4 linked regions of the Homo sapiens genome follow. The protein of the gene in region 3 purifies or fractionates together with the protein of the main gene of each other region. This does not show direct contact. Each region holds a gene or a part of one and is shown on either strand. Other genes may lie near its edges.

Evidence for each region.
Region 1: the proteins of PHF14 (region 3) and WRAP73 purify together in Homo sapiens (co-immunoprecipitation; one study listed by IntAct). This does not show direct contact.
Region 2: the proteins of PHF14 (region 3) and CFDP1 fractionate together in Homo sapiens (co-fractionation; one large-scale study listed by BioGRID). This does not show direct contact.
Region 4: the proteins of PHF14 (region 3) and GON4L purify together in Homo sapiens (affinity purification with mass spectrometry, with the first as the bait; one large-scale study listed by BioGRID). This does not show direct contact.

What each region holds. Positions count from the first base shown.
Region 1 is NC_000001.11:3,643,604-3,647,103, reverse strand, and holds part of WRAP73 (WD repeat-containing protein WRAP73), read left to right. Parts: intron 1-321; coding exon 322-438; intron 439-3,500.
Region 2 is NC_000016.10:75,304,504-75,308,003, forward strand, and holds part of CFDP1 (craniofacial development protein 1), read right to left. Parts: intron 680-3,500; coding exon 521-679; intron 1-520. UniProt on the Homo sapiens protein: May play a role during embryogenesis.
Region 3 is NC_000007.14:10,976,872-10,980,371, reverse strand, and holds part of PHF14 (PHD finger protein 14), read right to left. Parts: intron 1-3,500. UniProt on the Homo sapiens protein: Histone-binding protein. Binds preferentially to unmodified histone H3 but can also bind to a lesser extent to histone H3 trimethylated at 'Lys-9' (H3K9me3) as well as to histone H3 monomethylated at 'Lys-27' (H3K27ac) and trimethylated at 'Lys-27' (H3K27me3).
Region 4 is NC_000001.11:155,850,715-155,854,214, forward strand, and holds part of GON4L (GON-4-like protein), read right to left. Parts: intron 3,093-3,500; 5' UTR 3,067-3,092; coding exon 2,562-3,066; intron 1-2,561. UniProt on the Homo sapiens protein: Has transcriptional repressor activity, probably as part of a complex with YY1, SIN3A and HDAC1. Required for B cell lymphopoiesis.

The DNA.
Region 1 (3,500 bases), on a different chromosome or scaffold from region 3:
AAATGAGGTCTTAGGAATGACAATGTGAATAAACAGTTTTAAAACAACAACGAAATGAAATCACCAAGAAGCGTGGCTTACTTTTACACTGGAATCCAGCACCAGCCCTTCATCATGAAAGGTTCTAAAAGACACCCTGTGTGATCGGGTCTCTGCTGGTTTTAAGGGAGTTGTCTCTCGGCGAGGCCTCGCTATAGACTGCTGATGAGTTTGAAGACACCCTGTGCGGTCGGGTCTCCGCTGCGTTTAAGCGAGCTGTCCTCGCTGTCTCTCGGTGCTGATGAGTTTGCACTTGTGTGTTTCTTTCTTCTCTCAATCCAGGTCTGGTCTTTAGAGCAGCCCGAATGGCACTGCAAAATAGACGAGGGCTCAGCCGGGCTGGTGGCCTCGTGCTGGAGCCCGGACGGGCGCCACATTCTCAACACCACGGAATTCCATGTAAGTGTCAGCCCCAAGACACCTTACTGGCCATGTGATCCTGTCCTCTGCTCTCGAAACAGCTGGGGAGTGCGAGAGGGGGTGTGTTTGGAGTATGCTAGTCTCCCCTTATCCTCAGGGGATGCATTCTAAGACCACCAGGGGATTCAGATTGTACCAAACCCTGTATTTCCTGTGTTTTTTCCTATACAGCATACCTGTGATACATTTAATTTATAAATTAGATACAGTAAGAGATTAGCAACAATCATAGTATAGAACAAGGATAACAATATACTGTTTATAATTGCATGGATAGAAGATTTGGTCTTACTGAAGATCTGAGCAACAACCTCAGCATAGGATTTTTTCTTTCCTTGTTGCGTCAAGAACTTTCAGCTCGTCATTTAAAGGAAGCACTTTGTGGCTTCTCTTTGGCGTATCCAGATTGCGAGCCCCACCGCCCGTGCTTTGGGCTGCTACTGAGTCAGATAAGGGTGTCGTGAACACAGGCACTGTCTGCTGCCCTGGGTCTGATGACTGAGGTGGCTCCCGAGTGGCTGGTAGATTGGCGGGGTTGGAGGGAGCCGGGGAGCGTATATAGTGGTGTGTATATTTTAGGTCAGAGCATTATAAGCCACTAAGTATTATTGTCTGATCTTTTGTCCAGTTTTGAAGAAAAAACATTTTAAAAATCTTAATTTAGATTTTTTAGGATTTCGGCACTCCCTTTAATTCAACGATAGAAAATGCGCTGTGATATGAGCCGGCTCGCACCTTTCCTTCAGGAGCCTGGCCTGGGGGCGTGGCTCGGGGCGGTCGGCAGCCGCCCATTCACCTGCTGTAGGTACCGCACAACAGCCTCCGTGCTGAGCTCAGCGCGGAGGGGAATGTTGACATCCGAGAATAAATCAGAGGGATCTGGGATAGGAGACTGCATTTTAAGTTAAAATTAGGCATATGTCAAGTGTTTAGATACCAGGTCTTTGGTGTCCGCAGTGTCTTTTTAAGATACAGAAAAATGGACGAATTCCTTTAATAATGTGCTTTTCTGATGGAGTTGGATCCCAGTGTTTGGGCCCAAGTCCACTGAGTGCTCATAGCTGTCTGGGCTGCTGGCTGCACCTCGGTAACCCGCCCATCCCGCTGCGCCGCGCACACCACGGGGCAACCCGCCCATCCCGCTGCGCCGCGCACACCACGGGGCAACCCGCCCGTCCCGCTGCACGGCGCACACCACGGGGCAACCCGCCCGTCCCGCTGCGCCGCGCACACCACGGGGCAACCCGCCCGTCCCGCTGCGCCACGCACACCACGGGGCAACCCGCCCATCCCGCTGCGCCGCTCACACCACACTGCAGCCCTCCCGTCCCGCTGCGCCGCGCACACCACGTAGATGATGGCACCTGGGAGGATTTCTCCCAGCGTGTGGCTGCAGATGCTCTGTAGGGTTTCATTCGGCTTTTTTCAAGCTGGCATCGGCTGGGATAAAGTTTTATCCAGCCATGAGGGTTGCTGAATCAACTGCTTCAGATGGCTGGATGGCTTTACATATTTTTCAGTTTCGATTTTAAAAAATACTCCAAATCTAATGTCTGCTATTATGGGCTGTCAGAGAATAAGACAGGAAACAAAGGCCCACCAATGTCTCCGCACTATGTATTGACATTGGAAGGCACTTTCGGCCTGAGTGTTTCAGAGAGGATAATTTGAGCTTTTCACGCAGCCGTGTCTAACAGTCTTCAGGCCTGTAATGCTTTGGGCCCAAATCTGCCCTTGAGAAGGGCTCATGTCATGGGGTCAGCCTTGTTGTATTATCTTATTAAATGGCCCAGAAGGAAAACTACCATCTATAGAGTTTAGAAACCTTAAAAGATGGATAAAAGCCTGGTTTTGTTGAGCATCCCATGTCACACACACCAATATTGAAAACACCTTTGCTACAGAACAAACTGATTTTTCATAGAGTACATTTAGATGACATTGTTCAACCTAAGACTAAGGTCATGACCACTTTGCTGGTGGCCTTAGAGGAAACGTTAAGACCAGGTGGTGGATGAGGACCGGTAACCTCAAGGCATGGGGCATCTTGACCAAGATGTCAAAATGTGTCTCCAGCTTTGCATGCGAACTTTAATGGTTGCAAGTGAGGAAACAAAACCGGAATTCCAGACGTGCTGGCCAGGAAGTGAGCTGCGGGCACCGTCCATCAGTCTCATTCACAAGAGCAAGGACCAGACCCGTTCGAGGATTAGCGGGGCCACTAGGTCCCCTTCTGAAGGCGCGACCCCATGTCCGGGGCTCAGCGGGGCCACTGGATCCCCTTCCGAAGGCGCGACCCCATGTCCGGGGCTCAGCGGGGCCGCTGGGTCCCCTTCCGAAGGCGCGACCCCATGTCCGGGGCTCAGCGGGGCCGCTGGGTCCCCTTCCGAAGGCGCGACCCCATGTCCGGGGCTCAGCGGGGCCGCTGGGTCCCCTTCCGAAGGCGCGACCCCATGTCCGGGGCTCAGCGGGGCCGCTGGGTCCCCTTCCGAAGGCGCGACCCCATGTCCGGGGCTCAGCGGGGCCGCTGGGTCCCCTTCCGAAGGCGCGACCCCATGTCCGGGGCTCAGCGGGGCCGCTGGGTCCCCTTCCGAAGGCGCGACCCCATGTCCGGGGCTCAGCGGGGCCGCTGGGTCCCCTTCCGAAGGCGCGACCCCATGTCCGGGGCTCAGCGGGGCCGCTGGGTCCCCTTCCGAAGGCGCGACCCCATGTCCGGGGCTCAGCGGGGCCGCTGGGTCCCCTTCCGAAGGCGCGACCCCATGTCCGGGGCTCAGCGGGGCCGCTGGGTCCCCTTCCGAAGGCGCGACCCCATGTCCGGGGCTCAGCGGGGCCGCTGGGTCCCCTTCCGAAGGCGCGACCCCATGTCCGGGGCTCAGCGGGGCCGCTGGGTCCCCTTCCGAAGGCGCGACCCCATGTCCGGGGCTCAGCGGGGCCGCTGGGTCCCCTTCCGAAGGCGCGACCCCATGTCCGGGGCTCAGCGGGGCCGCTGGGTCCCCTTCCGAAGGCGCGACCCCATGTCCGGGGCTCAGCGGGGCCGCTGG
Region 2 (3,500 bases), on a different chromosome or scaffold from region 3:
TGGCCTGGGGTGCTGTCTGAGGGCCTGGCCTATCACACAGGCTATAGCCAAGGGTAAAGCCCCACCCCAGGCCATAATGACACAGACAAAAAAAAATTCACAATAATGCAACATCTAGGCATTCCATTGGCTCAGTTTTTGACGGATCTGAACTAGTTTGGTTTCTCAGAAGGACAAATGATTCAGATAAGGCCAAGGCTGCTACCACAGGCCAGATCCAACCACTAGGCAACTTACAGTTCACTGGAGCTGTAATTCAGCAAATTCAGCTTGGCAGATGTGACTGGCCCCTGAGAGTACTCCTCACATGCCCCGCCTTCCCTCCACCCGCAGTGGCCTTCCCAGTGACAGGCCCTGCCCCACACTGGAACAGAGACTTACTGACAAACCAAAGTGCTCACATTTTTAGTTCCATCATGAAAAGCTCCTGCTTGCTTACAGTGGGCAGTTTGTCTCCAATAAATCATTTGATTTCAGGGTTCTGAGGATTTTCCAAGGCATAAAACCTACTCCTTCTTACCCCTCTTTCCCTCGATTATGGATGGCCAGTTCTTCACCAATCCCCTCTTCCTCCTTGAAGCTCTCCCAGTCCAGTTTGGACTTCTCAAGGGTGCTCATTTTCTGCTTCTTGGCACCAATTTTCCCCAAAAGGCTGCTCATGCCACTTGATCTTTTTAACCTAAGGAAAGAAAATATGAAAGATGTAGCAGGTAAAAACTCTGATCTCTATATTAACAGTTTTTCTGATGCAAATGGGAATCCCCTAGATTGGGGCCATTTATCTTAGTGGAAGCCATGTTCATATTTGGGGCATTTCCTTCCTGGTGTGGAGAGCACTGTAAGTAAACTGGAATTCTAATGTGCTTTTCCTGCTTAACACCACTGTCTGCTCTCCTGAGCTACGAACAGGAAATCCTGCCTTCTTCAGACCTCTGTGGGCTCTGTGTGGCAGGTCTCTGCTTGCAAGGAGGGGAGGAGCAGCGCTTCAGGCAGGGCTTTGGAGTCACATGCCAAGGTCCAACTTCCAGCTTAACTGTGTGACTCTAGGCCAGTTATTTACTGCATGTTCCTTGGTTTCCTAATCTACAAAGCAAATGCTTACTCACAGGCTGTGGTGTATCTTACACGTAAAGGGCTAAAACAGCACTTGGCACAGCGTCAAGGTGCAATAAGCATGAGCCACTCTGAGTCACTGTCATCGTTTAAGCTTAAAGCCCCAGGGGGTTCTTTTAAGAGAAAGAGAACCAGTTCCCAACACTGATGAGTGAAAAGTCACAGTACTGTAAGAGGGTTCTAAAATCAGTTTCCTTTTAACTCCTGTGAGTTGGGCCCTGTTTTTTCCAGGAGGTGGAGAACATTCCTCACTCCGAAAGCTCACACGGGGAATGTACAGCCTGTGCTCCACTTGCTGGTGATGCTATCATGGACAGTGGGAGAAACCCCAGATGCCCAAATTCAAGTCTTGGCAGGTCAAATGTTTCCAGTCATTGTTAAACATATGAAATAAAATAAGAAAAGCAAAATGCAGTTAAGATGGTATGAGGAAAGGTTTGGTCTCTTTATGAAATGAAACGAAATCATCTACCAGCATGTAGGAACTTGGAAGTTATTTTCCGCCTCACGGGGATATGCAAGAAAGTTAAACATTTAAAAACTATGAGCTAATGTCACATGGTCTACTGATAATAATACCTTTACTTGTCTAGAATGTTTGTTCTCCAAGTGCTTTTGTAGCCATGATCTCATCTAACTCTCACTAAGGCCTGTGACACAGGACCCAGTCTCAGAGTTGGAAGGGATCATCTTTGAAATAACCTAGTATCACCCTAACCCATTCTGAAACCCCACGTCCCTGCCGCAAAGCAGCGTGAACGACTACTCACCCCCTCTGCCTGGTGTGAGCCAACAGGCCAACGTCCACACTGAACACCAGACTGCTGGGACTGAACAATGACCCTGAACATTCTCATTCTATTAACTTTAGTAGAGAGGATGTCAACTTCCCTGTTTGGGTCACACCCCAGTACATGCTGAGCTTAAGATCAACTCAGAATGGGCTGGGCAAGCTTCATCATCCTTGTATTAAGTTGGACAAATAAACAAAGTTCAGAGAGGTTAAATGATAAAACAAGGGTCAAAACAATAGACAATGCAGATCCGGGACAAAGGAAGATCTCTCCCAACTCTCAGGGTGGTGCACTGTGCTATCTCGCCTCCAGATGAGAAGTGACTTGAGAGATTTTCTCATTAGTTACTTTACTTCCCAGTTTGCTTAAGAGAACTCCAAATAGCTCTTTATGAGCTTTCAATTCATATCTTCTAAGCACTGTTTTCCAGACAACTCAACCCCTACAATGTCATATGTGCGCGTGATCACACACACACACACACACACACACGCACACACACACACTTTCTTTTTCACCATTTTACCAGGAACGGAGCATGAGTGGGGATATGGAAACTTACTGTGTCTCAAATCTTTTTCCTTCTCATCTTCCTTACTGCTACTGCCCGAATTCTCATTCTTATATCACCTGGATAATTGAACAGCCTCTTTACTGGTCTCCCTGACCTGTTTTTCCCCATCCTCACTCAGTGGCCCTATCCTGGTATCTAGTGACATGCTGTAATTAGACTGAATTTTCCAAAACACAAAGCTTAGCATGTCTTTCTGCTTAAATGTCTCTTCACTGACCCCTTTTTATTTTTATTTATTTTTATTTTTTGAGACGGAGTTTCTCTCTTGTTGCCCAGGCTGGAGTGCAGATGCGTGATCTCGGCTCACTGCAACCTCCGCCTCCCGGGTTCAAGCGATTCTCCTGTCTCAGCCTCCCAAGTAGCTGGGATTACAGGCGCCTGCCACCACACCTGGCTAATTTTTTGTATTTTTAGTAGAGACGGGGTTTTGCCATGTTGGGCAGGCTGGTCTCAAACTCCTGACCTCGGGTGATCTGCCCACCTCGGCCCCCCAAAGTGCTGGGATTACAGGTGTGAGCCACTGCGCCCAGGCCCACTGACCCCTTTTTAAAACATAATAATTAAAATAAATTTTTATGTATTTACTTTTTTAGAGACAGGTTCTCACTCTGTTACCCAGGCTAGAGTACACCAGTGAAACCACAGCTTACTACAGCCTCAACCTCCCTGGGTCAAGTGATCCTCCCACCTCAGTCTCCTGAGGTGCAGAGACTACAGGTGTGTGCCACCACGTTCAACTATCTTTTTTATGTTTTGTAGAGACAGGGTCTTGCTATGTTGCCCAAGGCTGGTATCAAACTCTTGGACTCAAGCAATCCTCCTGCCTTGGCCTCCCGAAGTACTGGGATTATAGGCACAAGCCACCATATTAAGCCTTATCTCAGCTTTAAAACCACTTCCTCCAGGAAGCCTTCCCTAACCTCTAGATTAGGTGTCCCTGGTGGTATTTCTATCATACCAGTTCTTTTCATATGGGAACACTGATCTTTTCTTTAGATGCTTGTGAACTCTTATTTCAG
Region 3 (3,500 bases):
ATTTTTTATGCACACTGACTAAAGAAAACTGAAACACCTTAGGCTCTAGAAGGGAAGCAATGCCATAATTAAGAGAGCTAGGAGATGAAGATGAAAGAAAAGGTACTTTTCTTCTGGATCAACCTTCTAGAAGGCTTTTTATCAATCAAAACTTCACGATAGACGCAAAAGTAAGATTAACTGGGGCAGAAGTGTGGGTAGCTGATCAAAATTGAGACCAATCCAACTTTGCTATTACTTGGTAAATTTTACAAAATGTCAGAGATTTTTGTGATTTTGTTTTGGTAGTTGCCAATGCCAATTAATTAATTATTTTTTCAAATGAGAGGTAAATTGAGACTCCTTGATTCTGTTTTTGATTTATAACCATGCCTGAATAGAAAGCAATTTTTTAAAAAATTTTTAATGTTTTATGTTTGTTAACTATTATTAGAAGAATGGACATTTTTCCACAAAACCAACTCCTAATAGCTTACCCAACCCCTCATTCTCCAAATATAGTACATTAGTCAGACTCCAACTACAGGGATCAGCAATATATCAAATTTTATCTTTCTATAGGGATCAGCAATACATCAAATCTTATCTTTCTCTGATATCTGAAAAATAACTTCTTCATCTAATTAGTCACTATTTCTTTTTTGTACATATGCACTGGAGGAATGGAGATAAACCATATTTATTTACAACCATAGCTGGGTAATAATGACAATGAGAAAAATCAAGGCCCTTGGCTATTTTTTCCATAGGCTGCAAAGACAAAATTTCCTAGTCATCAAAGAATGACTCTGTGCTATGTTCCAAAAAAAAAAAAAAAAGAGAGAGAAAGGAAAGGAAAAAAAGAAATATACTGGAGAAATTATCTTAGGCAGAAAGAGTTAATTTCAAGTCTACAATAAACCTTTCTTACGTTTGAAAAAAATATATCTTTAAAATTGAAATCCTACTTCCCATTTGGTTAAATAAAAGATAACCTTTCTCAAACATACAATATATCAGAATCTCTCCAAGCAACAGCTATTTCAACTAACAGACAGTTAAGAAATTTTTTACCATTACAGAATTTTTAAAAACTCCTCTGAGTGGTAATGGCCAGACAAAAAAATAAAATAAATTTTAAAATTAGAATTTAAAACACCAACCTTCAAGAATCCCTTTACAATATCAAATAATAAAATAAAAATTAATTTAATTAATATCAACCATCAATACCATTATATCCAATGTTCTCCCCATAACAAAATCAATATGATTTAATTTAGTTTTATGCTAATATACAATATATGCAATATAAATTTGTTCATCAATTTCATCAATCTAATTCTGTTCATTGATCTGGTACAACAGTGTTAGTACTATAAATATACACAATAGATAACAGATCAATCACTATTCTACTAGTTATTTACAGCTATCCCAGGGCTATGTTTGACCAAAACCGTATATGTCTTGAAGACAGCCAATCAGTCAACACAACTCATCCTCCACTTCCGATTCTAGTTCCAGCTATGTCATCTTGGTTTGTATGAGCCAGTGGTACTCAAACGGGAACATTTTTTTCCCCCAGAGGACAACTGGCAATGTCTGGAAACAATAGTTGCCACAACAGTGGAAGTGGAGGTGGAGGTGAGGCTGGGGCAGGTAGGAAAGATGCTACTGGCATCTAGTAGAGGAAAAGGTTGTTGTTGCTAAACATCCTACTGGGTACAGGACAAGCCTCCACAACAAAAAATTATCCAACACAAAATGCCAATAGCGCCAAGGTTGAGAAACCATTAACTCGTATATACAGCCACAATTTGACCTTATTCTATTTTTCCAGGCTTATCTCTTCTACTTTTACTCAACACTGATCCCCAAATATAAAAAAACAATTCCAAGTCTCAACACTTTTAATTTTTGCCTCACCAAGATTGCTGTTTATCTAAATCCTTCTGTTCATAGTTCCACTCTTACCTCCTCTCCTCAATGAAATTGTTCTACATCAATCTAATCTCATTTCCTATTAAAGACTTGAACTACACAAGTGATCAACCATCCTTTGTATCAACTATTTTATTTAATTATTCTAATTTTTATTTTACTTACATGTTATTTTACTTACTTATTCTAATATTATTACTACTGTTTTGTAAATTCACCATAACATCTAGCAAAGGGCTAAACTACGGACAATCAATGAACACATCTTGGTCCACTTATTCAAAGTCAGATTAAGCACAAAATACCACCAAAGTCTCAGGCTGACACTTCTCATTAAATTATTTCCTGGCAATATGGCCTAACTAAACTAACTTTTGATCAAGATCTAAAGTTAACCCCATTTTACTTTGCCTGGTGGGGGATAGGGGTAGAGAGCATGGCTAATCTGTCTGGTTAATAGAAGTAATACATGTCTGCATCTTTAAAAAGATGTAAACATTCTTTAAAACATTCAATTAATGTAGCAGATAACCAAATGTAAATAAGTCTCCTATCATACACCCAACCCTATGCCCAAGTCTCAAATATCAACACTTTAACTAGGTAAAACCATGAAATTGCTAATATTTGACTGTGTGTTTTGGACCTACAAAACTGGTAATTCCATATAGTTCAACCTAACATTTCTACATATGGTTCTTCTGGTGGTTATCACCATAATTCTAATAATGCATATATATCCTATTTTAGGACTTACTCATTTCAAACTTTATTGACTGCTTTCAATCAAAAATGAGAAGCTTACTTTTGCTTTTGCATTAAAAATAAAATATAAACTATCTTCAGTTTCATAATTTTCTAAAGGTACAGGCTCGTAATCACTTGCCAATCTTATGGGTGGGTCATTCTTTACCAATGTTGATTTGTTTCTATTTTATGATAGAGTTAAATTATGTTTATCTGCAAATGTTTTCTATATTTATTCTTAAAACCAAACAGAAATATAAAAAGTTTTATAGTCAGAATTTCAGATTTCAAGATGAAGGTAAGAAGAAATTGATCCACGGAATCCAGTTAGCCAAAATTAAGGCCAACGAATCTAACCACTTTAATATTAAGTTCTAAGGAAGTCCGTAGTTCATTCAATGAGTCATTTCTAGAAGTTGTTTTGAAAGAAGATATGATCAGACAGATGTTTAGCTACCATTTCTCTACTTCCAATTTAATCTCCTATTCGTAAGTAGGGCTGGGAATCCACAACTTCAACATGTTTGGAAACCAGTGATAGGACTAATGTCTTATTCTCTACAAGACTCCAACTAAATATATACTATCTCAGGCACAGAAAAGATTCAAATGGAAAACAATGGTAATCTAGAGTAAGCGAATATCTCAGCTATGCAGAGCATCAATGCACCTAAAACAAGAGTCAAAAATATGATTCAATTTCTGTTGACTACTAATCATTTTAAATACAATCATTTTCTTCTAAATTCCCTTTTACAATAAATACCAAGAACTATACATACAAATTTGTGACCTGAGACCACAGATCACAAATTTAAGCTCCCCAGGGG
Region 4 (3,500 bases), on a different chromosome or scaffold from region 3:
GGACTTAAAATGCGGCAAAAAAGAAAACATCTTAACAGTCAAAATGAATGAATAGGCCGGGTGCAGTGGTTCACGCCTGTAATCCTAGCACTTTGGGAGGCCGAGGTCGGTGGATCACGAGGTCAGGAGTTCGAGACCAGCGTGGCCAGCATGGTGAAACCCTGTCTCAACTAAAATACAAAAAAAAAAAAAATTAGCTGAGCGTGGCAGCGTGTGCCTGTAGTCCTAGCTACTTGGGAGGCTGAGGCAGAATTGCTTGAACCTGGGAGGCGGAGGTTGCAGTGAGATGAGATCGTGCCACTGCACTCCAGCCTGGCAACAGAGCGAGACTCCACCTCAAAAAAAAAAAAAAAAAAAGGGCCGGGCGCGGTGGCACACGCCTGTAATCCCAGCACTTTGGGAGGACGAGGCAGGTGGATCACGAGGTCATGAAATTGACACTATCCTGGCTAACACGGTAAAACCCCGTCTCTACTAAAAATACAAAAAATTAGCTGGGCATGGTGGCAGACACCTGTAGTCCCAGCTACTCGGGAGGCTGAGGCAGGAGAATGGCATGAACCCAGGAGGCAGAGCTTGCAGTGAGCCAAGACTGCGCCACTGCACTCCAGCCTGGGCGACAGAGCCAGACTACGTCTCAAAAAAAAAAAATGACTATCACCTACCTACAGGAAAAGCTCAAATGCCTTAGTATGAAAAACAAAAACCTTCACAATCTAGGCCGGGCGCAGTGGCTCACGCCTGTAATCCCAGCACTTTGGGAGGCTGAGGCAGGTGGGTTACCTGAGGTCAGGAGTTCAGGACCAAGCTGGCTAACCTGGTGAAACCCCATCTCCACTAAAAATACAAAAATTAGCTGAGCACGGTGGCGGGCGCCTGTAATACCAGCTACTCAGGAGGCTGAGGCAGGAGAATCACTTGAACAGGGGAGGTGGAGGTTGCAGTGAGCTGAGATCACGCCACTGTACTCCAGCCTGGGCGACAAAGCGAGACTCCGTATCAAAAAAAAAATGAATAAGAGAAGTTGGTATCTTTTCTAAAGCATAAATGTGTTCTACTTAGACGTTTAAATGACTATCACCTACCTACAGGAAAAGCTCAAATGCCTTGGTATGAAAAACAAAACCTTTCACAACCTTAGTACAATCTACTACTCTAAAGTCATCTTGGCAGGGCGTGGTGGCTCACGCCTGTAATCCCAGCACTTTGGGAGGCCAAGGTACGTGGATCACCTGAGGTCAGGAGTTTGAGACCAGCCTGGCCAACATGGGGAAACCTCCTCTCTAATAAAAATAAAAAAATTAGCTGGACGTGGTGGCAGGCACCTGTAATCCCAGCTACTCGCGAGGCTGAAGCAGGGGAATCACTTGAACATGGGAGGTGGAGGTTGCAGTGAGCCAAGATCACACCACTGCACTCCAGCCTGGGCAACAGAGCGAGACTGTCACAAAAAAAAAAAAAAAAAAAAAAGAAGTCATCTCCCACCACCTGTTCCAAGCAACCATGTCACCATCCTTTTCTGCCAGTCTATCTCTGTGCACTGTTCTTGGCCTATGTGCCCATACCACTTTCTGTTAAACCGCAATTCATCTTTCAAATTGGAAGGGTCATTCATCTCAGTAGAGCCTTTCCCAGTGTCCCAGGCAGTAGTCTCCCCCTTTAAGCTGCTGCCCAATCACAAAAGACCATACACATCTCCAGACACACCAAATAAAGGATGAGAGAATGGAATGAAAGGGATACAATGGCTGGGTGCAGTGGCTCACGCTTGTAATCCAGCACTTTGGGAGGCCAAGGCGGGCGGATCACGAGGTCAGGAGACTGAGACCATCCTGGCTAACACAGTGAAACCCCGCCTCTACTAAAAATACAAAAAAAATTGGCCGGGCATGGTGGTGGGTGCCTGTAGTCCCAGCTACTCGGGAGGCTGAGGCAGGAGAATGGCGTGAACCTGGGAGGCGGAGCTTGCAGTGAGCCGAGACCACGCCACTGCACCCTGGCCTGGGTGACAGAGCGAGACTCCGTCTCAAAAAAGAAAGAAGAAAGGGGTACAGAAGTGGATATAGCGAATGGGAGGGGAAAAGAAAGTCTATATCCATTCATAAAGTTCACTGCTGGCCAGGCACGGTGGCTCACACCTGTAATCCCAGCACTTTGGGAGGCCAAGGCAAACGTATCACCTGAGGTCAGGAGTTCGAGACCAGCTTGACCAACATGGTGAAACCCCGTCTCTGGTAAAAATACAAAATTAGCCTGGCGTGGTGGCGCATGCCTGTAATCCTAGATACTTGAGAGACTGAGGCAGGAGAATCGCTTGAACCCAGGAGGTGGAGGCTGCAGTGAGTCAAGATCCCACCATTGCACTCTAGTCTGGTGACATGGCAAGACTCCGTCTCAAGAAAAAAAAAAAGTTCACTGTTGACCCTTAGCAACACAGCAGTTCCAATTCCGTACCAAATCAATATCCCCTTTCAGAAATACTACTCTGTAAAGGTATCCAGAAATAGCAATGGCAAAGTGGTATTGACAAGAATGTAACCTAGAGACCTTGTATACCTTACCTCCTTCTTCCTTGACTTCTTCACTAGGCTCTCCTGAAAAAGGCTCCTTTAGGGTAAGATGATCACATCTGTCTTCTTGGGTAACTGGCCCAGGCCTGAGTGTCATTTTTTTCCCTCTCTTTGAGCCAGTAGCGTGGAGTTTTCCTTTACCAATGTGTATATTAAGGGGGTGAAAAGACTCCAAGGAAGGTAGGGTGATTCCCTGAGAGATGGCCACATCAACACCTTCTAGAATTGGTACATTTGTGTTCTGGGTGAGCATTCCAGAGCTCAGAGATGTATCCTCCATACCAAGCTGATTTCCTGCATCCTGCAAAGACTGTACTTCGAAGCCAGCTACTCTGCCATGACTTGGATCCCAGGATAGTGACACCGAACTCAAGTCCTTAACCTGGTCAGATTCTGGTTTAACGGCTGATTCTAGGTCTACGTTGTTTTCCTCTTGATTGCCTTTATGCTGTAGGGACTCTGTCACTGTAGTTCTTCTCTTCTTACAGGGCAACATTTTAAAAGTCCCACTTTTGTTCCATTCTGAAAGAATAAAAAGTTCTTACTGCCTTCATATTAATTAAAAGTAATAACATTTACTCAATTATCTTTTCATTTATTCATGTTCGATCATGAACACAATACTTCACACCAAATGCACAATTTCCCTTTAGGTGGAAGTTGAGAGACAGTGGTTAAGTGACTGAGTTCAAATCTCAACTCTACTGATTACTACTGATGGACTACTGTTACCTAGGCCAAGTGATTTAACCTCGCAAGTCTTCAGTACCCTCAACAGTAAAAAATAATTGCTCTTACTTCATAGAATTGTTACAATTAAAGAGTAAGTGATTAATAAACACTGTGGGTTTATTTTTGTGTTTTTTTGTTTTTGTTTTTGTTTTTGAGACAGAGTCTCACTCTGTCTCCCAGGCTGGAGTACAGTGGCGC